7 linked regions of the Homo sapiens genome follow. The protein of the gene in region 2 purifies or fractionates together with the protein of the main gene of each other region. This does not show direct contact. Each region holds a gene or a part of one and is shown on either strand. Other genes may lie near its edges. The genes, in order: CCDC183, ZMYND19, MKLN1, PRAG1, TMOD1, RMND5A and ITM2C.

Region 1 (4,456 bases), 790 kb from region 2:
CTGGGGGGCCCCCAGCCCTGGGCCCTGAGCTCACCTTGACCCCATCCGAAGATCCAAGAGGGCTGGCCCTGGGGGGCCCCAGCCCTGGGCCCTGAGCTCACCTTGACCCCATCCGAAGATCCAAGAGGGCTGGCCCTGGGGGGCCCCCGGCCCTGGGCCCTGAGCTCACCTTGACCCCATCCGAAGATCCAAGAGGGCTGGCCCTGGGGGGCCCCCAGCCCTGGGCCCTGAGCTCACCTTGACCCCATCCGAAGATCCAAGAGGGCTGGCCCTGGGGGGCCCCCGGCCCTGGGCCCTGAGCTCACCTTGACCCCATCCGAAGATCCAAGAGGGCTGGCCCTGGGGGGCCCCCAGCCCTGGGCCCTGAGCTCACCTTGACCCCATCCGAAGATCCAAGAGGGCTGGCCCTGGGGGGCCCCCAGCCCTGGGCCCTGAGCTCACCTTGACCTCATCCGTGATCATCATGGCATCTTGGGACATGATCTTCATATCCGACAGCTCTGAGCAGTAGTTGACCACGAGGTTCTGCAGCTTGTCCAGCTCAATGGGGTATCCTGCCAGCACCTGTGTTGAATGGGGTTCTCTTGTGGCCCCTACAGAGTGGGCTGCAGTTGCCCCGAGCTTTTATCCCCCGACTAAGAGCCCTGAGAACAGTGATAGGTTCTCCTCTGTGGCCCCAGCCACCTCCCCCACTCCCCGCTGGGCACAACGGTGATGAAAGGTGTTTCACAGGGAGTGGACAGTGCTGGCCTGGTGGACTCTTTCACCACCTAGGGTCCAACAACCCAGAGAGACTGAGAGAGTTTGTGATGAAATGCTCTGCAGAAAAGGCTGACTGAAACCCGGGGAGGTTTGGGGACAGTTCTGCTTTGAAGTGAAACAGAGGGGCTCAAGACATGGGCTTGGGGTCAGAGAGTCAGGATTCAAGGCCAAGGCAGCTTCTGACCAGCTAGTTTAGCTGTGTGACATTGGGAAAGTTACTTAATCTCTCTGTGTCCCCATTTGTAAGATGATGGCTCGTTCAGAAGGTTGCCATCAGGATGAATTGAGTGTAAAAGGAATTATTTAGCCCAGAACCAGGTACATACGTGCTCAGGATAGCTTTGCTATAGTGGTTTGTTTTTTGTAACTACAAGTATAGGCCAGGTGCGGTGGCTCACGCCTGTAATCCCAACACTGGGAGGCCGGAGGCAGGCAGATCATGAGGTCAGGAGTTAGAGACCAGCCTGGCCAACATAGTGAAACCCTGTCTCTACTAAAAATACAAAAAAAATCAGCCGGGCGTGGTAGTGGGCGCCTGTAATTCTAGCTATTCGGGAGGCTGAGGCAGGAGAATCGCTTGAACCCGGGAGGCGGAGGTTGCAGTGAGCCGAGATCTCACCACTGCACACCAGCTGGGGCAACAGTGTGAAACTCCATCTCAAAAAACAAAACAAACAAAAACAAAACTAGAAGTGTAGAATCTTCATTTTTAAAAATATGGATGACTATGGGAATTATTGCTTGTTTTTTCCTTTGTTCTGAGACTGAATCTCACTCTATCACCCAGGCTGGAGTGCGATGGTACGATCTCGGCTTGCAGCAACCTCTGCCTTCTGGGTTCAGGTGATTCTCGTGCCTCAGCCTCCCGAGTAGCTGGGATTACAGGCATGCACCACCATGCCAGGCTACTTTTTGTATTTTTAGTAGAGATGAAGTTTCACCATGTTGGCCAGGCTGGTCTAGAACTCCTGACCTCAAGTGATCCGCCTGCCTTGGCCTCCCAAAGTGCTGGGATTACAGGCATGAGCCACCATGCCCAGGCCGGGAATAATTGTTTTTTAAGTGTGTATGTTCTAAACAGAAGAAGGCGCTACCAGAGGAACAGAAAGCACCCAGGCGAAGGAGGGGCATGGACAGGGGTGGGGAGAGGGGTGGGCCCAGGAAGCATAGAGGGGCAGGGCTTCCAGGTGAGCCAATAGGACCAGGGGCCAAGGCAAGAGGGACAAGCAGAGGACGGTGCTGAGAGCCACCTGGGCTGGGACCACAGCAGGAAAAGAGCTGCGATGCAGCCTCCGTCCACCACTCCTCCTAAACTGCACTTCCATGCTGTCACCTTCCCGAAGCATGGCTCTCCAGAGCTCCCCTTTGCCCAGTCTTAGGGTGAGGGTGTTTCCAGCTGGCTCCCCGCCCCATCCACAGGTTGCTCCTCTTAGCACCTCCTGTGCTCTCCCTATCTACAGCCCATCTGGAGTAGGTTCTGCTTTGTGGCAGCCCGAGGGGCGGTGCTCAGCCTCCCATGAAGGGGGTCTTCCCTCACAATCGGACTGCTGGCTGCCTTTGGCCTCGTCTGCAGGGAGCAGGGCGGGTGGGCTGGCTGGGACGGCAGCAAGCCCTGCTTACAGGCCCAGCGGACCCTCAAAGGTGCAAGGACTTTCTGAGGGTGCAGGACCTGTCTGACTCTCAGAGGCCCAGGCAATGAGAAAATGACAGGCAAGATACAAACAATACCAAATCATTTAATACGTGCAAGAAAGTCCGAAGAATTCTGATATACCCCACGATATGCTTTTTTGGAATAGCCAAAAATGAAGTTTAAAAAAACGTTTTCCACATGCCTCGGCGTCCTGCGTAGCCGGTGGTCAGGCAGAGCTCCCTCTCCCTGGCGGGTGCGGGGCGGCTCCGCCCCAGGACGCTCCCGCCCCTCCCAGATCCCAGCCCCTGACCCCCGCCCTTCCCGGGCCGCTGGGCTCACTGTCTTCAGATAATCCAGCAGGTCCAAATACAGCAGGTGGATGTTCTGGCTGGTGATGATCTTGATCATTGTCTTCTCGATGTTGTTCTCCAGCTGGCGGATGATCTGGGGCGGACCGAGGGCGCAGTGAGAGGGCGTGGGGACCGGCCGCCCGGAGGGTGTCGGGGCTGGGTTTTCTCCGGAGAGGGTCGTGCTCTCTTAGCCCCGCCCCTCCCGTGAGCCCTCCCCAGGGGACCCGCAAGTCCCGCCCCCCGGTGGCCCCGCCCCTCCCGTGAGTCTTGCCCCAGTGGACTCCGCCCCGCCCTCCCAGCCCCGCCTCTCCACCTGCAGCAGCCGCAGCTCCTCCTTGCTGGCGTCGGGCTGGCTCCGCAGGCTGTCCAGCTCCAGCTGCATGCTCTCCAGCTTCTGCCCGCGCCGCCGCACCAGGTGGATCAGTAGGTTGTGCATGTTCACGCGGTCGAAGACGTACTTGCGCAGCTTCTCCCGCACCACCTGGGTCGGGAAGGGCACCGCCCACTCGTGGTTGCGTAGGGGGCCGCCATGGAGCCCGCCAGCAGGCGGGCGGGTGGAGGCTCGTGGCAACCCCACAGGGAACCTGGGGCTGGGCACCTGCTCCGTCCCTCGTCGGCTCCGCAACATCTAGTGGGGGGGTGCTGGCAGGGGTGGGGAGGGTTGGGTCTCGAGGCCCCTCCTGCCTGGTTACCTCCATGGTGCTGCGGCAGTGCGCCAGTCGCAAAGGCAAGTTTTTCCCGCAGGCCTTGGAGATGGTCCACTGGTCATACTGCGGAGCGGCGGCGGCTGAGCTAGAGCGGGCCCTTTGCGCACCCGCAGCCGCTGGCTCCTCCAGGCATTCTCCCCAGGGCCTCTTGTATCCCACGCTAGCCCAGTAGCGAGATCCCTGCTTCCACGAGGAGCAGAGAGCCGCGGGACCCCATCCTGGCCATCCAAGTTCGGAGGCGACGTGGTAGGGGGGTATGCAGAGGAGGGCCTGGGTGTCCCCTAGCTGGCCGGAGAGCCAGAGGGGGCCCCTGCTGCAGGATGTGGGCTCACAGATGCCAAGCCCTCGGGTTGGGTGGTGGGAAACCTGCCCACCGGATGCTGGGGTGACTGGAGCCCAGGGCACAGGTCCTAGCAGAGCCCCTCCTCACATGCCCCCTGGATCCAGAAAGATTGGGGTGGGGGTGGAGAGGAGGTGCCCGCCCTCCGAGTGTGTGTGTACTCAGCTCCTGCCCTGCTCGCCAGGCAGAGGGGAGGGGCGGCGTTTGTGTACCTTCTTGGCCAAAGCCCAGTCCTGGGCCCCGCGGCGGATGTTGCTGCGCAGGAGGGCCAGCGTGGCCTTGTTCTGGTCCATATTCTCTTTCACCCCTTGGATCTGGAGTGCCCGACACTGCTCTGTGGGCAGGTGGAGGGGACACAGTGGCTAGGATTGGGCCAAGGGCCTGGCCTGGAATCCCCTGGGGGAGGCTTGCATCAGGGAGGCCCCAGGCCCCAGGGTCCAGGGGGATGCCCCCTCCATGGCCAAGATCCCTCCTCCCGCCCTGTCCTGGGGGACACCGCTCCACTGCCCAGCAGCAGCTGTCTGAAGGGCTCTCAGTGGACAGGTGCGGGGAGGTGGACAGGTGGGGAGGGTGAGGCAAAGGAGAGGGATGGCAGGGTCCTGTGGTCCCGTCCAGATTTGCTGCCCATGGAAGCAGGTGGGTGTTTTCCTGTCCATTCTGGCTT
Region 2 (3,922 bases):
GGGTTCTAAAACCCCATGTTGGCAAACCAAAGATGGCTGAGCCTGATCAGTCCTGAGCCACCCCAGGCCCACCTCCTGTAGCAGGGGGTTGTGTAAGGCAGCAGCCCCAGCGCAACTCGTCCTGCTGTGCCCTCAGAGAATGGGCATCCTGCCGTGCCCACAGAGAATGGGCTGACCAGGAGCATCAGCCCAACACCCCCTTTCCAAACGGCTGTTCTTAACGGCAGTTATCTCCTCTCCTGATTATAAAGGGTGCTGAGAGGATTCAAGGTAACATTCAGTCACAGGCTGGCCGGACCCTGAGTCTTGTTGAGAACCGGCTGAAATGACCCGCACCATGGCAGGGACAGAAGGCATTGCCAGGTGGAGTGGTGAGCAGCGGGCGAACTTGCGGAGTTGGGAAGGGCCCATCCCAGCATCAACACTGAGCATGTATCAATGTGGGACAACGCAGGAGGAGATGCTACAGATGCTGCTCTGCCTGCCAAGCACGCCTTCCCCTTCCCCTTCCCTTTTCATGTAGAAAAGTGATTCTAAGCAAGCTAACTACAGTTCATCCCAGGGCTTCCCCAGACACCACTAGAACAGGGTGCCTGCTTCAGTCCGCAAGTGCTAGGTAGTGCCCATGCCGCCTCCCAGAGAGGAGCCGGGAGTGGGGGCGCAGAGCTGGAGGCAGCAGCATCCCTGGCTCTCCACATTTCAGTCAGGATACCAAAATGTACCCTATTTTTGTTTCAGCCAAATTGACCTTTGTTTCTGTTTCTTGCAACCCAAAGTTCCAACTAACATAATCCCCGAAAGAATAAAAACCCCATTCAACAATCGTAAGAGGCCTGGCTTCACTCACAAGCAGTATGAGGAAGGTCAAAACTCTAATATTAGAGCAAGGACCGGGCGTGGTGGTGCACACCCGTAATCCCAGCTACTCAAGAGGCTGAAGCGGGGCCAGGCGTGGTGGCTCACGCCTGTAATCCCAGCACTTTGGGAGGCTGAGGCAGGCGGATCACCTGAGGTCAGGAGTTCAAGACCAGCCTGGCCAACATGGCAAAATCCCACCTCTACTAAAAATACAAAAATTAGCCAGGCGTGGTGGTGGGCACCTGTAACCCCAGCTACTAGGAAGACTGGGGCAGAATTGCTTGAACTGGGCAGGCAGAAGCTACAGCGAGCCAAGGTCGCGCTACTCCAGCCTAGGCAACAGAGCCAGACTCCGTCTCAAAAAAAAAAAAAAAAAAAAATGCTGAGGCAAGAGGATTCCCTGAAGCCAGGAGTTCAAGAACAGCCTGGGCAACATAGTGAGACCCATCCGTAAAATTAATTAATTTAATGAAATAAACAGAGCAGGGAAAAAAAAACACCAGCCCAACAAGAACGAAAGACACTTCAGGCTCTGCCTTCGTCCTGAGAGGCCCAGTGAGGAAGGGATGGGGGGGGATTTGTAGGACTCCCTCCAGGGTGGCAGGAACAGCAGTTTGGGAGTGGCATTTTGGAGGCCTGGGGACTGTCCCCACATCACCAACCAGTGTGTCAGGTGCTCCCACTGTTTCCACCTCGGCTGCCCAGGGCTCTGGCATGACTCTGAGGTGACAACTGCAAAGATTCTACCCACAGCCACCAACCATCACCAAGCCCGAAACACTAAACCTTACCAGCGTTGCTGACAACCATCTGCTAGGGCAGTTCGCACTGCCTGCACCAGGAAAGGCTGCCCAGAGGCTTGAGGACGTGCCCAAAAGCCCCAGGGCGCCAGGGGAACATGTCAGTGAAGCGTGTGTGGCTGGGGACTCCCTGGCTCAACTGGGCTCCCAACCCCTATCCTGCTGGTCCCTTGGCTCTTCCCAAGGGCTCCATGAAGTTCACAGACTGGCTGGTTCTAGGGCCAGCAGGAACCGCCCTCCCAGGTGGGAAGCCCATGCAAAGCACTGCTTTCAGGATCACAGGCAGGTCGGGGGCCGAGGGCTGAGCCCTGAACCATTCTCCGCTTTAAACCTTTGCTTAAGGAAAACTGTTTAGCAAAAGAACACAACAAAAAGACCCATCTGTGTGCACAGAAAAGAATCCTGAGGTGAGGAGAGAAGGAAGGAATCCTGAGGTGAGCAGAGAAGGAAGGAATCCTGAGGTGAGCAGAGAAGGAAGGAATCCTGAGGTGAGCAGAGAAGGAAGGAATCCTGAGGTGAGCAGAGAAGGAAGGAATCCTGAGGTGAGGAGAGAAGGAAGGAATCCTGACGTGAGCAGAGAAGGAAGGAATCCCGAGGTGAGGAGAGAAGGAAGGAATCCCGAGGTGAGAGAAGGAAGGAATCCCGAGGTGAGAGAAGGAAGGAATCCTGAGGTGAGAGAAGGAAGGAATCCTGAGGTGAGAGAAGGAAGGAATCCTGAGGTGAGCAGAGAAGGAAGGAATCCTGAGGTGAGGAGAGAAGGCTGATGCCTCCCAGGGGTGTGGGGCAGAAGCCCTGCTCACACCGAGTCCCGACGCTGGCCCTGCCCTGGAGCAGGCAGCCCTTCTCCCCACTGTCATGCCAGCTAAAGGGAGGTTCCCAGAGCCAATTATAAGAGGAGCAATGCAAAAACACACACCATCAAGATCCTTCCCGCTCCCATGAAGAAAAGGAGGATTCCACGCTTTGGGGAAAAACAATGAAATTCCCAAAATACACAGAAGCATCAGGGCTCAGAGGAGGAACAGGAGACCCTCTTGGAAACAAGAGCTTTGGCGGTGGCCCTCCTCAAAAGGCGCCTCTGCTGGCATCGCCAGGCCCTGAGAAGACCCACCTCTGCTTGCTGGAGGTCTCTTCAGCCTTGGGCCGCCAGCCCCACGGCACCAGTTGCAGGTTGTCCAGGCGATTGTCCACGGTCACAGCGTTGAGGTGCACCACCTGGAAGCCCGGGGCCACGCCCCCCCGGTGCCGCTCCCTAGAAACAGACAGCAAACCCTGCATCTAACCCTGCATCGCTGCCTCCCACCCTCACAGACATTTCTGGTCAGGTACCAAAGTCCTTCCAGGAAGAAATGTCAGCCATGTGATCTGATCGGGCCCCTGGTCCTTTGGATGAGGGTACCTCAGGCGGAAGCTGCTGAGAGAAACCCAAGCACCTGATCTGTGGCCCAAACAGGACAGGGACACAGGGAGGACCCGGCCCCTGGACTTCAGAGCACAGACAGCCAAAGCTGGAACGCAAAACCACCTAAGCAGATGGCCTCGAGACAGCTCCCCATCTGAGTGGTCCCTACCATGCACACCGGGGGGGCTCGGCAAAACCCAGCAAGGGGAGCAACCACCGTCCCTCCAGAGGCTGCCGGTCCTGGGCAAGCTCCCAGCAGAAAGTCCACTTGGTGTTTGAAGTGCAACATACAAATCATTCGTTCCTTTGGGTTAGTGGTGAAGGACACAAAAATAACTGCGAGATTCAGGGAAGGCAAGGCAGGGCTTCAGCGGGGCAGGGGGCTCCAGGCGCCCTGTGCCATCGGAGCTCACCCAGGAGCCCAGTGGCGGGGGGCAGAGACAGCTTGGAAACACCCACCACAGCAGCTCATGAAGGAGTCTCCCAGAGCCCCTTCCTCGGTTCTTGTCAAAGGCATAGGCAAATATCTTAGCACCATTTCCATCTGCATCCACTTCCATTCGGGCCTGAGAAGGAACAAGGGAAAGAGCTGTTAAAAAACCTCCAATTCTCAGCAACACTTCAATTCCCTCTTAGAAAAACCAAGTGAAACAAGCAAGCCAGAGGGACAAATGCCAGCCCTGTCCCTGAGACCCTGGGGAGTGCAGAGCTTCCCACAGGCACATGGCTCCCAGGGGCCAGCGTGGCCCACCACCACTCTGTCTATTCGAGCAAGAAACACTCACAAACAACTCTGCAAAATACAATGGGACATAGACAAATACATTTTCCTACCCTTAAAAAAAGCCCACGGTGCAGTGAG
Region 3 (4,456 bases), on a different chromosome or scaffold from region 2:
AGAAAAATCGTTGCTTATATGTATTTGGTGGCCAGCGATCAAAGACCTATTTGAATGATTTCTTTAGTTATGATGTGGACTCTGATCATGTAGACATAATATCAGATGGCACCAAGAAAGACTCTGGGATGGGTAAGGGCATTGAGTGATTTCTTCTCTCATGTCTTAACTACTTTAGGTAGAAAACTGCAGTTCATTCTCTTTTCTTTCTAATCATTTTTCACCCTTTCTTTATTTCTTTAATTGAGTAATTCCAAGTAAGAGAAAGAAAATTCTACCAGCTTATTCAGTTCTATCTATTTTTAAATATGGGAATTACTATTTCCTTCAAGCAGAAAATATGTGAATTTCTAAATGAATTGTGTGTGTGCTTGTTGGGGGGCGGGGTAGGAAGAATCAATATCTTAAAAACTTTTTATTCTGTGTTTGCTAATTTTTTTCATCTTCTATTTTCACTGTAGTGATCTTTATATTAGGCACTAGCATAGTAGGGTGTGTGTCTTAAGGGGGGAACTTCATGGGATTGGTAACACCTTGTAAGTTTAAAAGCTCAGCATCTAGGAGGTTATTAGTAGTGGAATGGCTGGTTTGCTTAGATTATGCATATTGCCCTGGCATAATTATTAATAGTGCTCCATTCATTTTCAAAAGTGTCCTGTTTTGATCATTTATAGTTACCCTACATAGTAGTTGCTTTGCCTGTGATTATTGTACCTAAAAGAGTGGCTTTAATTAAGGTGCAATGGTTTAAAATGCTAATTTGAACAATAGAGTGAGAAATTAAATCAGCTGCTTTTCTTTTTAGCTGTTGCTTATAGATTGGTGTTTTTATTATTGGCTCTTTTGCCAAATGTGGATAAAAGCACTTGTTTCACAGACATTGTTTCTGGATATTTTATTGATTAATACAAGCTTCCTTTAAAACAAAAACAACAAAAATATTTTTAAATTAAAATATTTGTTCACATTTAAGAAGAAAAACTTGTTTTAAAACAAACAAACAAAAAAACAAAAGATAGGCAAGGCACAGTCGCATATGCCTGTAATTCCAGCTAGTCCAGAGACGGACATGGGAGGATTGCTTGAATCTAGGAGTTTAGGACCAGCCTGAGCAACAAAGCAAGACCCTGTCTCTACAAAAAGGAGGTTTCCAGATAAAAGTAGACTCAATAGATATGTTAAGCATTTGGAAGAAAAATCTGTTGATGAGTATAAATAGCATCTAATGTAAAAAACGAAGGATAGGGACACAACAGGAAAAGCGAAACTTTTTATAAAAAAGGAGACATTATCACAGTAAATTTCTTGGCTTTACAGTAAGCAGTATTTCCCTAATCATAATGCAGAACTACAGCCAGTTTAACCAAAAATTGGGATGAAATATAGTGGGAAGATAGTGTAAGTGTAGTAAACATCTTCGTCTATTACAACAGGAAATTAGTAGGTAATGTCTAAAATAGCAGCTTAGCATGTGATTTAGAAATATGGACCTGAATAGGTAATAACATTATTTACCCTATCTAAAATTGTCTTATTTACTCATTTATTTACTGTTGCCATAGGAGAGTGTAGAGCTATATGATTTAATATTTGACTTTCTCTGGCTTTTAAGAGTTATTCTAACTTACCATTAAAATAACTAGGAGGGTCAGGCGCAGTGGCTCATGTCTTTAATCCCAGCACTTTGGGAGGCTAAGGTGAGAGGACTGCTTGAGCCCAGGAGTTTGAGACTAGCCTGGGCAGCATAGTTAGCCCTCATCTCTATAAAATAAAAATAAAATAGCAGGAGAGAGGTAATACTCCTTCTACAATCCTAAGATGGGTCTCCCTGAAAAAGGTAGTGAAGATAGTAATTGATATGACAATATGTTGAAAATTATGGCATGCTGACTCAGTGCTAGACTACGGACACAGTGGATACAAGGCAATCACAGTCTCTCAAAGTGCTTATAATCTAGCTAGTAGGTAATGTATTCCCATGGATAATAATTACTACTCTTTATTTAGACCCTACCATATACCAGAATATCTTTAATTGGTGGTATTATTCTAATGTACAAGATGAAAACAGTTACACAACTACGTAATGACAGAGCTGGGATTTAGAAGTTTGAGTGCAAGGAAGGTGTTTCTGCCATGCTAAACTACTGCCCAAGATTAAAAGAAAAAAGTGGCGGCCACGTGAGGTGGCTTACACCTGTAATCCCAGCAGTTTGGGAGGCCAAGACAGGTGGATCACGAGGTCAGGAGATCGAGACCATCCTGGCTAACGTGGTGAAACCCCATCTATACTAAAAATACAAAAAATTAGCTGGGCGTGGTGGCGGGCGCCTGTAGTCCCAGCTACTCGGGAGGCTGAGGCAGGAGAATGGCGTGAACCCGGGAGGTGGAGCTTGCAGTGAGCCGATATCACGCCACTGCACTCCACCCTGGGCGACAGAGCGAGACTCTGTCTCAAAAAAGAAAAAAAAGTGGCAATGCGTGATAGTGACAGAGAACTAGTAAAATAAAAATTCACCATGACAAGTAGGCTTTAATGACTGTCATTCAAAACAATTTTTTAATGAGTTAAAATTATGTAGTAATGTACAGTATCGACAATTATTCTTCAATCATGGTTATGGCTAGCTTTAGAGCAGTGTGGCAATTATTCTTTTTATTTAATTTTGTTGTGGTCATAAAAGTAAAAATATGCTCATTGTAGAGAATTTGAAAAATAAGATGCAAAAAAGAAAATATGTCAAACTGTCCAGAGATAACTTGTTAAAATTTTGATATATTTCTGTCTAGTCTTTTTAAAACTTATTTATTGTATAAAAGTTGATACAAGTTTGTATTCTATTTTAAAATTTACATTAAATTGTGGGATTTTTTCCATTATTGTGGTTTTATTAATGTGAACTGGAGATGTTATTAGAAAAGACAAATGGATTCATTGTTTGATTACTGCTATAATCAATTTTTCTAAAATCAAAATCACCATTTTTTACTGTGTGTGTTCAGTGTGTAATTGGTTTACACAATTGAATTTTCCCACAATGCAAATAAATTCATTAATAATATTTGTTGACCATCTACTAGCATCTAAGTTTGTCCCTCTCCCTTCCTCCTTCCCTCCCCACTTAGTTCATTGTCTTCTGTAGGCCCAAGATTATTTTAGGCACTTGGGATTCATCTATGGACCTGGAGGATAAGATCCTTTCCCTTAGAGGACTCACATTCTAGTGGAGAGAGACCTGCAGTTGTGTTCTAAGTACTGTGAATAAAATACACTGGATGCCGTGATAATGAATAACAAGGGAAGTCTCATTTAAACAGAGTAGGTTGGGAAACCATCTTTGAGGAGGTAATCTTTAAGATTTAAGATGAAAAGTAGAGAATTAGGAAGAACCATGTGAAGAACTGAGAGAAGAACAAGTACAGAGTTCCCAAAGCAGGAAGGAACCTGGGATGTTCAGAAATAGTGGGACTGGTACGTATTGAGGATTGGAAAAGTTGGTATGAAACTAGGTTAGAGCTACGGAGATAAGAGTCAGAGTATTTAGTGCCTTGTTACAAATGCAAGGAGTTTGGATTTTTTTTCTGAATAAAATAGATTATTCAAAGGTTTAATATCAGTGTCTTGATCTAAGTTTTAACAATACCACTTCTTTGTCTAGGTGTATATTTTCCAAGTGGTTAATTTTGACAATGTTCCTGTGAGTTGCATTGTTCAAAGGCTTGTTTACTGAGGATTTTTATGGCAGGGTTGAGCATCTGGTTAGAATTACTTGGAAAAATTTCCCACCTAAAACTGTTGCAGTTATACTTGGAATTGAGGAACCTCAGTGACTCTGTTAGCACATTAGAGTGAAATGGAAATTATTCTCTTTTTTTCTGTTTTTTTTTCCCCTCATCTCTGCCTCTCTCACTTTCTTCCTTTTCCCTCCTTCCCATTCTTTTTCCCATGTCCCTTTTACTCCTCCCCCAACTTTCTCTCTCCTAGAGGATTCTAATATGCGGCTGGGATTGAGAACCACTGTTCTAGCTCTCCGGAGTCTATTTCAGTCCTTAGTTAACCTTAAGCAAGTTACCTAATGTCTCAGCTTTTGCTTCCACATTTGTAAATGACCCAAATTAGATTTTAAGGAAAATAGCGTCTCTGTCCATGGCTACCCTAGGAGTAGAGATGGGTTAACCCTCTAGTTTCGACTGGTGTTACTGTTGGGTGCCTTAATTTTCACAAGAGGATGTTAATACTGCTACCCTCAGGTTCACTAATCTAGCCAGTTAACATCAAGTCATGCCAATTTTGCCTCATCTTCTCTCTATTCCCATTGCTGCTTCACTATGAACTAGTTTGGGCTAACATCACCTATTTGGCCTCTGTCTCTAGACTTCCTCTCCCTATGTACCCCTCCCTGCAACCCATTCTCCACACTGCAAGCAGGATACAGCTATTCTGTGTTACCAGTAA
Region 4 (4,456 bases), on a different chromosome or scaffold from region 2:
ATCCATCTCCCTCACTACATCATAGCTCTATAAGGAAGCTTATATTCACACCTACATACTCAGATTGTGGCAAAGTACCTGGCCTATAGTAGACACTCAATAAAAACCTGGTCAATAAATGAATAAACTCTCCGTTGCACTAAAAGGCAACTGTTTTCTTAACTCAGCTAAAGCACAGAATGTGTCTTATATTCATACTACAAATCTCATTGCACCATGTCCTGGGGCAGAGAGAGAGTGAAGCTGCTGAGCACTAAGTGTTAAAAGAATGCTTAGGGGTCAGGGGTGGTGGCTCACACCTGTAATCCCAGCATTTTGGGAGGCCGAGGTGGGTGGATCATCTGAGGTCAGGAGTTCAAGACCAGCCGGGCCAATATGGCAAAACCCCATTTCTACTAAAAATACAAAAATTAGCTGGGTACCGTGGTGCACACAGATAATCCCAGCTACTCAGGAGGATGAGGCAGGAGAATCGCTTTAAAATGGGAGGCGGAGGCTGTAGTGAGCCAAGATTGTGCCACTGCACTCCAGCCTGGGCAACAAAGTGAGACTCTTATCTTACAAGAAAAAAAAGAATGCTTAGGAATCAACTCCCCTCCTAATGCCCAGACAGGTGAAATGACTTGCTCAGGCCACAGTTCTGCCCAAGCCAGCACCAGCCAGTGGCACAGCAGAATGCAAGGAGGGAGTGGTACCTACTTTCACAGCATAGGTGCTGCCGGGGTCCTCAGAGCAGGTGGCACAGTAATAAATGGCATCCCCCGAGTCACAGCAGGGCTTGTTACAAGTCAGCTTGAAGAGCGACCAGTTATTCTCATTGAAGTGGAGCTCCTTTTTCTGGCCGCCCATGAAGAGGTCCTCACATTTGGCTACAAGGCGGGCCAGGGACTGGGTGTAGAGTCCCCCCAGCTTGGCATAGGTGCCCTCCTTGCTGCTGATGTTGCTCAGGAGACCGTGCAGCTGAAGCTGGGTGCTCCCGGTGGAGGCTTGACTGGACACGCTCAGCTGGGAGGATGAGGCGGAGGGGGCCCCTTTGCACTGGAGGCCAGGGCTCCCGCAGCCGCCTCTGTTGCCCGCCAGCCCTGCTGCCGGAAGCCAGTGGCCACTGCCTTTGAAAGCTTTCTCCAGAGGATCGGAAGAGGAGAAGACAGGATGGTGGCGGTTCCCGGGGCTCAACGAATAGCTAAAGTGAGATTCGTCGTGGACGTTGGTTTCCGAGTGGCTTAGGTTCAGCTTGGGGCTTGCTGTTCCGGGCTTGGGGGAGCCTTGGGTCCAGAAGAAGCCATCCGGTGAAGAGGCTGCCCGGCTCACTATCTTTTTCTGGGGGAGTGGAGGGGGCTGCTGGGGGCCACTGGGGGACACGTCCTCAGTGGAGCCTGAAGGAAACGGAACGGGAGCAAAGAGCTTCTTCCCGCTGTTGGTGGGCGAGTGAGCCAGCTCAGACGAGGGACCTGAAGAGGAGAGACAGAAACCATAAGACCAAGGCCAGTGCCACTCAATTCCAGGGTCCTGCAGACTTGTTTCCCTTTATTTATTTATTTATTTGGTCAGAGCAATTAATTTTATGTTACTTCTTTTCTATTTCTCTAATAGACAATATATGCACAATGGAAAAAATCAAAATGCAGAAAAGGTATAGATTGACAACTAAGTCTTCCTCCTACCCTGTCCCTCATACTCAGCTCTCTCATCAGAGGAAACCACTGTCAGTAGTGTTTCATGCATCCCTCCAACAATCCAAACAAATGCGTGCCTGCACGCGTGCGCACACACACACACACACACACACAAATTACATAGAAAAGAGCAAACGGTGGCTACTGTTTGGAATAATGCTTTTCTTTCACATCTTGGAGAGATTTTTAAATCAAATATGCAGATCTATTTAATTATTTTAAACAGTCTCACCATAATATATCACCATATGCAAGTATCATAATTTAACCATCCCTTTTTGATGGACACTTAAATTGTTTCCAATATTTTGCAAACAATGCTGCAACAGCAATAACAAACTCGAACATGTGTGGTTTCCGTGGAATTTTTTAAAAGTCAGGTTTATAGAGGGTGTAACTGGCCAATGGTAAAATTCTCCCTTTTGGCTGGGTGCGGCGGCTCATGCTTGTAATCCCAGCACTTTGGGAGGCTGAGGTGGACGGATCACTTGAGCTCAGGAGTTTGAGACCAGCCTGGCCAACATGGTGAAATCCCGTATCTACTAAAAATACAAAAATTAGCTGGGGGTGGTGGTGCGTGCCTATAATCCCAGCGACTAAGGAGTCTGAGGCAGGAGAATCGCTTGAGCCCGGGAGATGGAGGTTGTAGTGAGCCAAGATTGCGCCACTACACTCAGCCTGGGTGGCAGAGTGAAACTTCATCTAATAATAATAATAATAATGGGTTGCAGCCCTAAGGAAATGTGTACTTAGGATGTGTGCCCCTCATTGAGTTCTCCATGCCACATCACCCTAAGGGAAGAGCATGGAGTGTCTCTATGCCTTTCCACACCTTGGCAGTAGGACCAGAAAACAACAAAAAAAAGCAGAACAAAAGCATAGGAGAAGACAAGGGGTAGAAGGCCCCAAAGGAAGCAAATTATGAGTCTTGTGTCACCTCACTCAGGTGCACAGGACATTTCTAGGGCTGCTCCTGAACAGTTAATAACCTTCTAGCTCACACTGAGCCCTTCTCTGCTTTCTCCAACCCAAGAGGGAACAGAATAGATCCCTGAGGCTCAAACACCAGTTGCAAGCCACATAGATCAAGACTGGGTCTCTTTATTTCTGCTGCTCCACAGGGAGGAGGGTCTCTCTAGGGAGCAAGATGGATGGCCATGGGCTGACATTCATGCCCCAGCCTCAGTGACCGAGGCAGCATTAGTGAGCGACAGCAGGGCACAACCTTGAATGCAACGCTGACGGGAGGACAAACTCAGTGCATGCAACCTGTTGAACACAGGAGCTGAGAACCAATGGATTCATGCAAAGAAAAGCCCTGGGGAGCTGAGCAAGACTATGGGGTCCTTGCACCAATATCCTCCTTGGCTCTATCATCTATCATAAGACTCAACAGGGGCTGGGCACGGTGGCTTATGCCTGTAATCTCAGCACTTTGGGAGGCCAAGGCGGGAGGATCACTTGAGCTCAGGAGTTCAAGACCAGCCTGGGCAAAATGGCGAACCCCCAACTCTACAAAAGATACAAAAATTAGCTGGGCGTGGTGGTGCATGCCTATAATCCCAGCTACTCAGGAGGCTGAGGGGAGAGGATCACTTGAACCTAGGAGTCAGAAATTGCAGTGAGCCGAGACTGTGCCACCGCACTCCCACCTGGGCTATAGAGTGAGACTGTCACAAGTGAAAATGAAATTCAAGAGGGAGCACCGTGTTTCTTAAGCTCTCCTTGCCCACTTTCCCATCTGTAGTAAGCAATCCTTGTTTCCCTGTGGTTTATCAAGATCATAGGGAGTTGCCCTTCCCATTTGCTAATGATAGGCGGGGCCCCTGGCAGCAAGGCTGAGTGAGTGATTTATACCCCTTCCAGGAGGGCTCAAGTTAATAATAAATCAAGCAGTGGTGGTGCAGTCTGGACCAGTCACTTTTACATGCCCACGAATTTCCCCCTCAATAGTCAGAATGAAGGGCGCAGAAGAAATAGCGAGCCAGAAGAGGGAAGATCTAGATGGCAGTGATCTCAGCAGGTGCTGAAATCCTGCAGTCCACAGGTCTCCCCATCCCACGCTCCCCAGGAAAGCAATGGGGACAGACGGAGGCTAGGGCAGATGATTCACTTCCTCTCCCTCCTCCCTCTAACAGAAGAGGCTGAGAGCAGGAGGAGGATCAGTTGCCACCTCCTGGATAAAAAAAGGAGGGTAAGACCACCTACTTATGAGGCTCTCAAAGGACTGTAAGCCTCAGTCACCAAACTCCCAGCCTGATGAGCAGGAGGACTGGGAGCCGTGAGCACACATCCACTTCCTGACCTTTCTGCATTCTGGGCAGCAGAAACCGTCACCAGCGAGGCGTCTGATTCTCAATTTATCATCAACACAACAGAAGCTGAGGCTGGGAGATGGGAGTGGGGTGTGATCAGAACCCTGGTCAATGCTTTCATCAGTGCCCTCAGAGACAAGGACAACCTGCCTACGGTCAGGATTCCTTCCCATCCCAAGTCCAGTCGGCTAGGGAGGTTCATAACAGATCAGTTTCCTGGTTAGTCTCTTCTTTAAGCCTTAGGCTTATTTCTCCATGTTTATTGATTTTGTCTTCCTTGTCTTTACTACAAGGCTATCCTGATGCCACCAGTATGCCCCTTTCTGCTTCTGCTCCAATTTGAGGGTGAGCAGTGGAGTGAACACTTCACCAGCTGTCAGCCTGCCCTGCCTGAGTTTCCTCCTTTAGAAAATGACCGATGACATCATTGTGAAGGCCCCTTGCAGCACTAATAGTCTATAATTT
Region 5 (4,456 bases), about 40 Mb from region 2:
CTCGGAGAATCTCTCAGTGTTTTGAATAACGTGGCAGGTTTCCAGATCAAAGCTGGGTTGGCCCGTGCTAAACATCTGGGCCTGATATCATCCTCAGAAAGAAACCAGGACTGCCAGATGCACTTGTTTACACTGCCCACCCCTCTTAAAGGCTCCCATTTGCAAAGGTTTTGTCCCTATTCCCAATGCAGAAACACCCAGAATCCAAACAGGACCCTGTTTACTCTGCACAACCAACCCTGGACCGTTTGCATTTGGGTGACATGGTTCCCCCTCCCCCAGCCACACACAGGTAAAGTGAAATAAATGGACCTTACCCGGATATTATTGAGGTTAACTTCTTCAAGTTTTGGGTCGTTGTTCTTTATCCGTTCCAGCGTTTCCTCTACGTCTGTTGAATTTGGTTCTTCGTCGGGCACAGGCTTGTATTGTGTGGGTTTAATCACGCCTAGAGTGACCGATGAAAGGGAGGTGGCTCACAGAAACAAGGGGCTCACTTTCTGCCAACACAAAGATACTGTGGAAGGGAGCATGTGCAGGGTTGGGGCACGTGAGGGCTGCACATCACAGGGGCTGGGTGGGGGTAGGGGGCACCACTCAGAAGAAGCCCCGCAAGGGAGCCAGGAGGCTGGGGTTCTACTTGGACTCTGCCTTTGACGTCCTGCAAGAACTGGGTGAATTACTTAAACTCTCTGAACCTTGGGTCTACATCTGTAAGGCAGGGCTAGTCATTTTCCCGGGGCTCATGACCTCAGTGGACTCTTGGGAGGCTAAGATGAAGCCCGGATGGGAAAGAAATGCATCAATCTTCCAGAGGGAGGAATAATTATTTTTTTTGGCAGCCTCATTTCTGTTTGGGGCCAAAATGCCAGCTTTGGAACAATGCAGTGGAGTAATTAAGGCAATGCAATATTGGCACAGGAAAGGACAAAAGGGCTCATGAAACAGAGGAGGCACCTAGAAACAGATCCATGTGGATGATAAAGGCAGGCCCCAAACTAGTGGGGAAAGGATAAATCTTGCAAGGAATGGTGTTGGGACCACTGGATATTAATTCGAAAAAATGAAAGTTTGGTCTCATCCCACAGCACACACAAACATGAACTCCAGGTAGATTAAGAAGTTGAATATAAGGCCAGGTGTGGTGGCTCATGCCTGTAATCCCAGCACTTTGGGAGGCTGAGGCAGGAGGATTGCTTGAGTCCAGGAGTTCGAGACCAGTCTGGGCAATGGTGTGACCTCATCTCCATACAAAATAAACAAAATTAGCCAGGCATGCTGGCATACACCTGTAGCCTCAGCTACTCAGGAGGCAGAGGTGGGAGGATCGCTTAAGCCCAGGAGGTCCAGGCTGCAGTGTGTCAAGATTGTGCCAATGCACTCCAGCCTGGCTGACAGAGCAAGACCCTGTCTAAAAAAAGAAAAAGTTGAATATAAAAAGTAAATCTCTAAAACTTTTAGAAGAAAATATAGGAGAACATTTCTATAATACTGGGATAGAGAAGGCCTTTGTAAACAAGACACAAATCCCAGGAGACTCAAAGGAAAGGATGAACAGATTTGGCTATATAACATGTTAAAACTTCTGCAATGAGCCAGAGAACATCAGTGAGTGGAGGAAGCAAGAAGCATGAGGTCCCTCCTGGGGGCGGGCGCATACTCACTGTTGAGCCCCTCCTTGTTCATGATGGAGCTGCTGCTCAGGGCCTGGTAGTACTGCTGGTTACTCATGAGCGTGTGCATGCCCAGGATCGCTGCAGGGACAAGGGAAGGGCTCATGATGTGCCTCTGCAGACAGAAGAGCCTCCTAGGGACCCACACTCCAAACCCCGGGAACTCTGGCTCACAGAAATGGCAAGAAACACTTGCATGAAAACTTCAAAATTTTATTTTACTTTTACTCTCACCTCTATTGATGTGACTCTGAAATCCCCAGCCCCAGCCCAGGCTGCTCTGCCCCTGGCCTCTGATTCCCTGATGTCCTGCTGGCACATCCAGCTCAACGTGGCCAAACCAGAATGGCTCTTTCCAGTGACAGCCTCTTTCTTTGGAAGGCTCTCTTTCCATCTTGTCATCCTGCCTGTCCCTCAGGGTAAAACATCAGGGAATGTGGCACCTTCTCCCCATAAGCCCATTTGACCATCCCAGTGTCTCTGAGATCTGTCCCCCTCCCATCCCATCATCTCCATCCTAATGGAGGCCTGATCATTCTTTGGCTGTATTGTCACAGCTGTGTCATCACGGGTGTCTTGGTCTTGGCCTCTTCCTTCCCTCTACCTCCCAGCATGCAGCACAAAGCAGCTGGAAAGCTCTTTCTGGAAATGCCAACCTGATCTTATTGCTCCCGTGCTCAGCCATTCTTTCATCCATTCATTTGTTCAACATGTAATGAGGCCCACCCCAGCACTGTGTGCTAGGCTCTGGTGGGGACAGTGGAGAATAAGAAAGACTGGGTCTCCGCTCATGGAGCTGAAAGTGTGCTGGGGGAGAGAGGAGCCAAGCAAGTTCCCACACAATGAAAAACCAGCACAGGGTATGCTGAGTGTGGTAGAGGAAAAAGTTCAGTCCTAAGACAGCATAAAAGAGGAACTTGGGATGCAAAGGAGGAGTAAGTGTTGGTCAAGTTAAGAGAAGGGCTATAGAACATTACAGGCAGAGGAATGCAGGTGGGAAAGCCTCGAGGTTCAGAGAGTGGCAGGCCAGTGAGGGAGGAAGGTCAGGTTGGCATTTCAGGAAAGACCTTTCCAGCTGCTCTGTGCTGCATGTTGGGAGGTGGAGAGTAGGAAGAGGCCAAGGCCAGGACACCAGTGATGACACAGCTGTGACAATCACTGCTGGGGGAAACAGGATAGAAGCTGGATGTGTGGCGGTAATAATCAGACGCATGGCAACACCACCCCTCTCACTGAGCACATGCTCTGGGCCAGGGAAGACACTTTGTATCCATCATTCCCAATTTGGCTGCACACTGGAATCACCTGGGGATCTGTTGAAATTCCTGATGCCCAGTCCCACCCTAGACCAATTAACCCAAAATATCTGGGGGTGGAGCTCAGGCACCTGCATTTTTAAAGCTCCCTGGATGGTTTCAATGAGCAGCCAAGGTTGAGAACCATTGCCTGACACTCCCCTCCTTGATCTGCCCAATAACCCTCTGGAGTAGATTTTATTCACCTAGGCAAGGTCAGATTCTACAGGGTCTTCTAGGCTGAGTAAGGAGTTCGGGTGTCTTTTCCTAGGAACAGCCTGGGAAGCCATTAGAGGCTTGAGCAGGAAGTGAGATGGTCTGACCTGAGTTCTGATTATTGTGTTGAGAACTCACTACAGAGGGGAGAGATGGATGTGGCTGCAGAGCTGTGAGGCTGTTGCAGCTGTCCAGATGGGAGGACAGTGGCTTGTACAGCCAAATCCAAACCCAGAGCCTGGCTTCACAGGCCTTCCCTGGGCTGGCCCCACCTCACCAGTGTTGTTGCACTCCCCCTCCCAACAGCTTCTCTGCTCCAGCTACACAAACAGCCCCTGCTCATAGCTGCTCCTGCTTTTGCTAGTACTCTCCCTTCTGCTGGTGATTCTCTGCACCCACTTGACTTGGAATTTTAGATAAACAACAAATTTTTTTTTTTGAGATGGAGTCTCGCTCTGTTGCCCAGGCTGGAGTGCAGTGGCGAGATCTCGGCTCACAGTAAACTCCACCTCCCAGATTTAAGGAATTCTCTGCCTCAGCCTCCCGAGTAGCTGGGATTACAGGAGTGTCATCCTGTAATTTTTGTATTTTTTATATATACAATATATAAATACTTTATATATATATATATACAATACAAAAAATATTGTATTTTTTGTCGTCCGGCTAATTTTTGTATTTTTAGTAAAGACAGGGTTTCACCAACTTGGCCAGGTTGGTCTTGAACTCCTGACTTCTTGATCCACCACCTTGACCTCCCAAAGTGCTGGGATTGCAGGCGTGAGCCACCTCGCCCGGCCAACACCAGATTTTTTTTTAGCTAAGTACGCCCCATTCAATATTGGGACATATTTGTTGTTCTCTGAAATTTGAATTCAATTGATCATACTGTATTTTATCTAACAACTCTATGGCCCTATCCTTCAAGACTAGGAGTAACTCTTCCTCCTCCAGGGAGTCTTCCTGGATTCCTCCTCTCCCTTTCTAATTCTCCCACAGCACCTGGTGTATGCCTCAGAATCTATGTGGTGTTAGACATATCTAGATACACGTCTGCTTCTGCTACTAGACTGTAGGCTTCTGGAGGTCAGAGAAGGATATTTTCTCTTCCACCTCTCCCTGAATACGGTATTTAGCAAATATTTGGTGGTGATTTTTTAAAAAATATCCAAGTCACTTGATTAGATATGGTTTCCTGTTAGAGAGACAATATGGGAGCCCTTAATGAAGAGTCAGGAAACCCAAGTTCCAGCCCTGACCATGCCCCTGATG
Region 6 (4,456 bases), on a different chromosome or scaffold from region 2:
ATAAGGGACTATTTCATTTTGTCTGTAGTAAAATAAACTGCGGCCCATTGAAATTTGGGATTCTTGTGAGCTACTTCAGCACCTAGGACACAGCGGCTGCTTAGAGGAAAGAGAAAAGGCACAAATAGAACACATTCATTTTTTTCTGGAGGAGGTAAACACTGAAAACAAAATTTTTCCAGTATATTAGTAGCTGGTAAATCTGCAAAGTAAAAGAAAGTATGGTATTTGGTGTTCAACTCCTGACCTTTCAGAGAACAGTAGACTGACAGACACGTGTTCTGATCCAGAGAGATTATTAAAGACTGTGCATCAAATTAGAGGCACAGTGTGCTGCAAACCAAACATGAGGGGAAAAAAACGAAATAAAGTTAATATTTAGAGTGAAATTACATGGTACAGACTAATAGTGCTCCTGGAGCAAAGAACAGTATCAATGACTATCATAGAGAAGACAGGAAAGGCTTCAAAGTATATGAGGCAAGAATTGCAGAGAGAAGAAAAAAGATACAGGCACAAGATTTTAAACATATGTCTGTGACAGTCACATTTTAGAGAACCTATTCACTCCCTTCAAATTCCAAATATAAAGACTTAATCTCTAGGCATCTCATTTATCTCTGAAATGAATGGTGGAACCACATTAGGTTTCCTGTAGCATTGGAATCTGGATTTCATATTTAAAAATCAAACTCAGGCCAGGTGCAGTGGCTCACGCCTATAATCCCAGCACTCTGGGAGGCCGAGGTGGGTGGATCATTTGAGTTCAGGAGTTCAAGACCAGCCTGGCCAACATGGTGAAACCCCATCTCTACTAAAACTACAAAAATTAGCCAGGCGGTAGTGGCGCATGCCTGTAATCCCAGCTATTCAGGAGGCTGAGGCAGAAGAAACACTTGAACCCAGGAGGCAGAGATTGTGGTAAGCCGAGACACTGCAATCCAGTCTGGGCAACAGAATGAGACCCCCCCTCCCCCACCCCCCAAAAAAACAAAAACAAAAACAAAAAAAAATCAAACTCAGATTTCCACCTTCCCCTCTCCTAAACTTCCTATTTTCTACCTGGTTCCATAATGATCTACCCATCATTCATGTTTAAAACCTTGGATTAACCTTTGGTTTTTCCTGCCCTTTTCTCCTACTCTGCCAGACTCCATCTGTGCACCAACTCCTGGTCATTCCTTCCCTCAGAAATCCCTTTCATGTGTCCCTTTAAATTTCTACCACCAGTACCCAAAGACAGGTCCCTATTTCATCAAATCTAGGTTGACACTTAGCCTTAGCTAACGTTCTTGCCTCTAGTCAAACCTCACTCCCAACTCCAAACCAACCTAAATACTGCTGACAACTGGTCTCTGATCGTGTCCCTGTCCCCTCCCTATTCAAAATGTCCCCACCCCACCCCAAAGTAATTCAATATCTTCCCAGTCTACTACTTTCCCTGGTATCCATGGCTTTACAAAACCTGATTCCAATTTAATTTTAATGCTCTTATCGCCTTTCCCCTGCAATCTGGTCCTTCACCTCTCACTCCTCTACACCTTTGTTCTTGCCATCCTCCCCTCCAGGCACTCCATCTGCTCTTTCTGCTATCCATATTCAATCTCTGCTACTAAAACTTCCCATAGGTAAAAAGAGTCTCTCCTTGTCTCAAATCCCACCCCTTTTTGTCCACACCACTCATGTAGCATCTAGCCTAGATACATAACCGTGCATTACAGGGCACTGCTTTTGTTTGTGTGTTTGTTAAAAAATGCCAGTCTCATCTCCCTAACTGGACACAAAGTTCTTAGAGGATGAAAATGCTTGTTCTTTGTAACTCCTAGAAGATTTTGCTTAGTTCTACCTATAAATGGTGATTAATAACTACTGATGAGGTGATCTAAAGTTCAGTTGAAATAATGCCCATCTACTCCCATGCAGTTCTTTCTAAGGGCTCTCTCTCTTCACTGGTGTCTGTACTCACCAGAAGCACTGTTATACACTGTGTGCCGTGGTCTTGTTTTTTCCCCCTTTCAAATATGAGTCTGGTCTCTCCAACTAACTTCTAAGTTCCTTAAAGACTCTTTCTTATACCTTTTAAGCATTCTTTACAATGTTAAGCAGACCACTGGACACAGAGTGGTATTTAACATAAACCAGTAATAAAGACACCTAAATATTACCCAAAATGTCTCAATTAAACAGTGCTTGGGCCCGGCGTGGTGGCTCACGCCTATAATCCTAGCACTTTGGGAGGCCAAGGCGGGCAGATTACGAGGTCAAGAGATCGAGACCATCCTGGCCAACATGGTAAAATCTCGTCTCTACTAAAATACAAAAAAAAAATAGTCAGGCCTGGTGGCATGCGCCTGTAATCGCAGCTACTCGGGGGCTGAGGCAGGGGAATCGCTTGAACTTGGGAGGCAGAGGTTGCAGTGAGCCAAGATCATGCCACTGCACTCCAGCCTGGGTGACAGAGCGAGACTCAGCCTCAAAAAAAAAAAAGCTTAACACCACTTAAGGCACAGACTTTATAAATAACACGTCTACCCTGTTTTACAAATTTCAAAGCCAGTTCACGTCTATTATTTATTTCACTCTCATAACTCTGTGATGTCAGTTTACTGAAGGAAAAACTGGCTAAGCAAGATTGTAGGATCAGGCCGGGCGTGGTGGCTCATGCCTGTAATCCCAGCACTTTGGGAGGCTGAGACGGGTGGATTACTTGAGCCCAGGAGTTCAAGATCCGCCTAGCCAACATAGTGAAACTCCGTCACTACTAAAAATACAAAAATTAGCCATGCATTGTGCACACCTGTAATCCCAGCTACTTGGGAGCACAAGAATCGCTTGAACCCTGGAGGCAGAGGTTGCAGTGAGCTGAGATCACACACCACTGCACTCCAGCCTAGGTGACAGAGTGAGACTCTGTCTCCAAAAAAAAAAAAAAAGATTGTAGAACCAGTAAATTGGCAGTGCAAGGATTCAAACCCAGACCTCCTGGGCCCAGGGTCAAAATTTTAGGTACTATTCCACAAATACAGATTCATCTTCTCAATTAGCCTCCAAGTTCCTGGAGGACCAGGGCCATGAATAATGTTTCTTTTAAAAGATTCTCTCCTCATCTCCTCCCAAATGTCTTCATGTATCAATAAGATGAATTAAACCTATATGAATTCTGCAGATACAACAAACTCATCATAAATAACACACAGCCTGACACTACATTGTGCCCCCATAACAGACGAAATCACCATCCAGGCCTCCATCTTAAGTGGAGAAAGACTTGGTAATATAAGCCTATGGCCTCTCCAAGCGACATTCCCAAACAACCATTTTGAGCTCAGCCACACAATCACCACACCCATATAAGGTGAAAGCATACTGTATTTCTCAAAATCCTCGAGTCCTGCCAGACAGTCTAGTCTTTGTTCTCTGAAGGGTTGAGTTAACATCTAATCTAAAGAGAATGGCCAGAAGTGTCTGCTACTCTCAGAGCTTTCAAGGAAACGTCCAGTTAGAGAGCATCATCTCCTGGAAGTACCACGGGTCTCCAAGTACACATAGCTCAGAGCCAGGGCCCTCCACAATTTTCTCCCTAAACTGCATTTTTGGATCATTTTTAAAGATTTTGGAAGCCTTACAGATGAAGAAGCAGGGCCCTAAATAAAAATAAGTTAGTTTTAATATTCCAAGTGAACAGTTTGCTAAAACACCATTTTCATCATCCTAAAGACTAAGAGACTAAGACATGAAAACAACAGAAACTTCTCTATTAGCTCTAGTATGACAGTATCACAGAAGTGTTGGCAAGTTTCTCCTTACCAATGTTATTATCCAGAGTTAGAAACTACTTTAGAAATAAAATAACTTTAGGAAAATTACTTTACTATGTCAAGCATTAAAGTAATTTCAAAAAAGTTCTAGAGGAACATGAACCAAGTTGTATTCTCTAGTCTATAGATTAAGTCATACTAACAACTCACTACTTGAATTATATGAGCATTATAGTTAGGAGGCCAGGCAAAAGCTGAGAAGGCGAGGCTAGTCAGGAAAACATCTCAGAGAATGTTACTGATATAACATGTAGCTGTTGCACTGTAATAGACATATATTACTCTGTCTGGGTTTAAGTGTTCCTTTCTAGAACTGTCTCTTTACCTGATGAACAGTGTATTATAAGGCCATATACCTCCTGAGGGGGTGAGCACAGCTCAAGGTGGCCAGAAGACCTCACTCCCTGGTCCCAGTTACTGATTCAGGGAAAGGATCCATAACGGAATAATAAAGGTACTCCCTGGAGTATCTCCAACAAAATGGCCATGTTCCTGTCTTTTGAGCTCCATTGGTCATCTCTACCCCATGTGAAGAAAACTACCCTGAAAATAAAGCCAACAGTTGACAGAAGAGAACAAGATCAGTCCTGATGACATGCCTGGTGCCCCTGGAGCCAGCCTAGCCCTAACCTCAGCCT
Region 7 (3,359 bases), on a different chromosome or scaffold from region 2:
GGTAGGTCCCCCTCTGCAAAACAAGGTGGCCGCCACAGTGAGTCGGCCCCTCAGGCTTTCGTCCAACCCCTCGCCCGAAATGCCAGCCCACCTCCCTCCTCCAGAGGCCCCTGGGCTGGCCCTTCTGATGTCCTCAGGCACTTCCTGCCTGTGCCCGGTGCCTGCACCTGTGCTGCCAGGAGCAATGGCATGCGCACGAGTCCGTACCCAGGGTACAACCTTGAACACTAAGGAAGCCGGTCTCGGGGCATTGACTCTGGAGATGTGGAAGCAGGGGGATAGCAGAGGCGAGACCAATCTGGGTACAGGGCCCAGGTGCCAGCAATGTCTCTTGCTCCCCCAACCCCTGACACAGGAACTTCCTGTACCTCAGACCTAGCCTCCATGAGACAGGGGGCAAGGGAGGGACAGGATGCTGCAGACATCCCCCCAACCCCCTGCGCACCTTCACGTTCATGAGGAGCTCCCAGAAGTTGCGAGGGGGCAGCACAATGGTGGTGTTGAGTTCGATGACATAGCACTTGTCCAGGGAGATATCATGGTACGCAGTCAGACCCTGGCAGGAGAAGGGGTTGGGTCAGTCTCTGCAGGAGGTGACAGCTGACCCAGGCAGGGCTGCAAGAAGCTTTGGCCAGCCAGGCGCGGTGGCTCATGCCTGTAATCCCAGCACTTTGGGAGGCTGAGGCGGGCGGATCAAAGGTCAGGAGATCGAGACCATCCTGACTAACATGGTGAAACCCCGTCTCTACTAAAAATACAAAAAATTTGCCAGGCGTGGTGGTGGGCACCTGTAGTCCCAGCTACTCGGGGGGCTGAGGCGGGAGAATGGTGTGAACCCAGGAGGCGGAGCTTGCAGTGAGCCGAGATCGTGCCACTGCACTCCAGCCTGGGCGACAGAGCGAGACTCTGTCTCCAAAAAAAAAAGCAGCTTGGCCAGCAGGGGCAGGAGTCCCACCATGCCTTCCTGGGACCCTGGGCCTTCAGGAGCAGAGTCCTCTCCAGACTCCTCAATACCTGGGCGGGCACTCCCTTTTCCTGGTCTTCTCTTAGCCTGTTGTAGAAGGTGCCACATGATAGAGGAAAATAGCAGCTGATTGCTAAACGCCTCTGTTGTTATAAAGCTTCTTCTCATGTTTACAGAGCTGAGGTTTGGGGAACATGGTAACATCCCAGCTGTGCATTTATGAAACCTGTGAGGGCCAGCCATTCCTGGGACAGCCTGGACCCCAGCGAGAGATGCCCTGTCTCAGGACCCATGGGGGTTACATGAATACGCATGAGACCCACTCTGCAGAGACCCGCTGAGCTGTACACGCAATGCACTCGATGGTGAATGTACTACCCCTCGATACAACGCACTGGCCCTGCCATGACAGCCAGCGTGCAGCTGGCAGGAGGCTGAGGAGAAAATCAGCCTCGGCTGCTTCATACTCAGCAAGAACCATTGTTGCTAACAGGAGAAAAGCAGTGTCTTGAAGACCCTGGTAAGCCTAACCGTAGACACCTGCTGTACTCCGAGGAGTCTCCTTTCATCCCTGCTCCCCTTGCCCTGAGTCCCCGGGACACCCTCCCACCCCCCACCCCCAGGCCCTGGCCAGCCTCACCCGCTGGAAGTCATGGATGATGTCTGCAGGGTCACCGCCGCCAAACTGGGGCACAGGCACGTTGATGCGCTCGTAGTTCTCGTCGAGGTAGATTTTCACATCCTCTTCCAGCTCCATCTGAGTCCGGACCTGGGAGGACAGGGAGTCCTCATACAGCACACCACAGCGGAAGAAGTTATCTCGGGCCAGCTGAGCAAGGCGGAGAGACAGACAGACAGTCAGAGAGGCTGGTCATACACGCACTCCGTAAGGCCCCCTCTTGCCTACCCGTCCGCTACATGCCCCAAAAGCCTGCGGAAGCAAGAAGAGCAGGGACTGTGAGACCCATTTCGCAGATGGAGAAACTGAGACGGTGGGGCATCAGGTCAGGGTCTGGGGCTGCCAGTGAGGAGATGAGCTGATTCTTGGGCAAGGCGCTTCCCAGCTTCACAAACGGAAGGGAGGATGAGCTGGGTCTGCCAGGTTCTAGGTGGCAGACCTCTCTGGGCCTCAGTTTCCCCATCAGTAAAGCATGATGATCCCTAAGGTCCCTTCTGGCCTCCAAGTCCTTGAGTCGGTGACTGGGAAAAGGGGTGGCCCAGCAGGACTAGGACCTGGCCACCTCCGTGCCCTCCACAGAGGTGCAGACACCAGAGAAAGAGCCTGGGGTTGGCAGGGGGTCAAGGACGAACCTAAGAGTTGGGCACCTACGCCTGTGCACGACTGCCTTTCCTGTCACCTGCTGTCCTGGCCTGCAGACCTGGAGGGGCCTAACACGGCGGGTGGGGAGGTGGAGCTGGAGGCAACACTGTTAAGAGTCTTGTGCCCCTATCACGGTTACCTCCACATCCAGCCTCGGACAAGTGCCATCGCCCTTCCTGGATATCCCTGACCCCTGTCTTGGAGAAACCTTGACAGACACTGTGTCTGGTGGGCCAGTCCAGTCACTCCATCAGTAAGGGAGGCCAGGCAGCCTGGTGTGATCCCATCAACTGAATGGCCGGGCGGGCCAGTCTGCCCACTCTTACTTCTGGAGGGGGCTCCTGGAGGGGCCTGTAGATACATGCTTGGGACTGCCTGGCCTGGGATCGGCAGGATTCCACCGTCTGTTTGATTCAGTGCAAGTTCTCCAGGGAGGATGCGTCATCGCAGCATGGGGGGCTCCTGTGGGCTGTGCGGGGATGAGAGCCCAGGGAAGGTGAGGCTCCGGGGCTGCATCCCACAGTGGCTGGACACCCCGAATACTGTCCCAGGGCACAGACCCAGGGGCTGCTGGGAGGTGTCCACACAACGAATTGGGGTGTGGGGAGAAGGGTGTGAGTCGAGGGTGGAACAGAGGGGACCAGGAAATGCTGGCCCAGGTCCTAGGGTAGGGCCACAACAGGAAGAGGCCTGTGGGAAGGTCCCACACAGGACCCTGGAACGAGGGGGACGCAGGCCATGGAGGGAGTGGGGCGGGGCAGGGGGATGCTGCACAGAAAGGAAGGTGATGGGTGTATGTGAGCTGAGCTTTCAAGGGGAAAGCCCCGTGAATGCAAACTCTTCAGCAATTTCCATCGTGGAAAAACTGGGGGACAACAAAGTTAAACGCTTAGGAGTGGGAGGTCACTTGGGTCATAAATGACTGGCAAGTCCCACCTCTTTGTCACCCTGAGGTTCTCTGTGAGTTGTACGTAGGTTTATCCTTTTAATTTACCTACTTTCATTTCCAAGCACACAGCGACACTCCCTCCCTCCCAGGTCTGGGTTGGCCCAGCTTTGTGCCCAGGTCCCCCG

What was found.
Region 1: the proteins of ZMYND19 (region 2) and CCDC183 purify together in Homo sapiens (affinity purification with mass spectrometry; 3 studies listed by BioGRID and IntAct, with this or other methods). This does not show direct contact.
Region 3: the proteins of ZMYND19 (region 2) and MKLN1 purify together in Homo sapiens (affinity purification with mass spectrometry; 3 studies listed by BioGRID and IntAct, with this or other methods). This does not show direct contact.
Region 4: the proteins of ZMYND19 (region 2) and PRAG1 purify together in Homo sapiens (co-immunoprecipitation; one large-scale study listed by IntAct). This does not show direct contact.
Region 5: the proteins of ZMYND19 (region 2) and TMOD1 purify together in Homo sapiens (affinity purification with mass spectrometry; one large-scale study listed by BioGRID and IntAct). This does not show direct contact.
Region 6: the proteins of ZMYND19 (region 2) and RMND5A purify together in Homo sapiens (affinity purification with mass spectrometry; 4 studies listed by BioGRID and IntAct, with this or other methods). This does not show direct contact.
Region 7: the proteins of ZMYND19 (region 2) and ITM2C purify together in Homo sapiens (co-immunoprecipitation; one large-scale study listed by IntAct). This does not show direct contact.

What each region holds. Positions count from the first base shown.
Region 1 is NC_000009.12:136,798,772-136,803,227, reverse strand, and holds part of CCDC183 (coiled-coil domain-containing protein 183), read right to left. Parts: intron 4,127-4,456; coding exon 4,005-4,126; intron 3,516-4,004; coding exon 3,438-3,515; intron 3,227-3,437; coding exon 3,059-3,226; intron 2,840-3,058; coding exon 2,735-2,839; intron 565-2,734; coding exon 442-564; intron 1-441.
Region 2 is NC_000009.12:137,584,198-137,588,119, forward strand, and holds part of ZMYND19 (zinc finger MYND domain-containing protein 19), read right to left. Parts: intron 3,627-3,922; coding exon 3,520-3,626; intron 2,911-3,519; coding exon 2,770-2,910; intron 1-2,769. UniProt on the Homo sapiens protein: May be involved as a regulatory molecule in GPR24/MCH-R1 signaling.
Region 3 is NC_000007.14:131,445,772-131,450,227, forward strand, and holds part of MKLN1 (muskelin), read left to right. Parts: intron 1-2; coding exon 3-132; intron 133-4,456. UniProt on the Homo sapiens protein: Component of the CTLH E3 ubiquitin-protein ligase complex that selectively accepts ubiquitin from UBE2H and mediates ubiquitination and subsequent proteasomal degradation of the transcription factor HBP1.
Region 4 is NC_000008.11:8,327,011-8,331,466, forward strand, and holds part of PRAG1 (inactive tyrosine-protein kinase PRAG1), read right to left. Parts: intron 1,452-4,456; coding exon 700-1,451; intron 1-699. UniProt on the Homo sapiens protein: Catalytically inactive protein kinase that acts as a scaffold protein. Functions as an effector of the small GTPase RND2, which stimulates RhoA activity and inhibits NGF-induced neurite outgrowth.
Region 5 is NC_000009.12:97,560,030-97,564,485, reverse strand, and holds part of TMOD1 (tropomodulin-1), read right to left. Parts: intron 1,755-4,456; coding exon 1,665-1,754; intron 449-1,664; coding exon 318-448; intron 1-317. UniProt on the Homo sapiens protein: Blocks the elongation and depolymerization of the actin filaments at the pointed end. The Tmod/TM complex contributes to the formation of the short actin protofilament, which in turn defines the geometry of the membrane skeleton.
Region 6 is NC_000002.12:86,726,791-86,731,246, reverse strand, and holds part of RMND5A (E3 ubiquitin-protein transferase RMND5A), read right to left. Parts: intron 1-4,456.
Region 7 is NC_000002.12:230,874,054-230,877,412, reverse strand, and holds part of ITM2C (integral membrane protein 2C), read right to left. Parts: intron 1,794-3,359; coding exon 1,605-1,793; intron 557-1,604; coding exon 446-556; intron 14-445; coding exon 1-13. UniProt on the Homo sapiens protein: Negative regulator of amyloid-beta peptide production. May inhibit the processing of APP by blocking its access to alpha- and beta-secretase.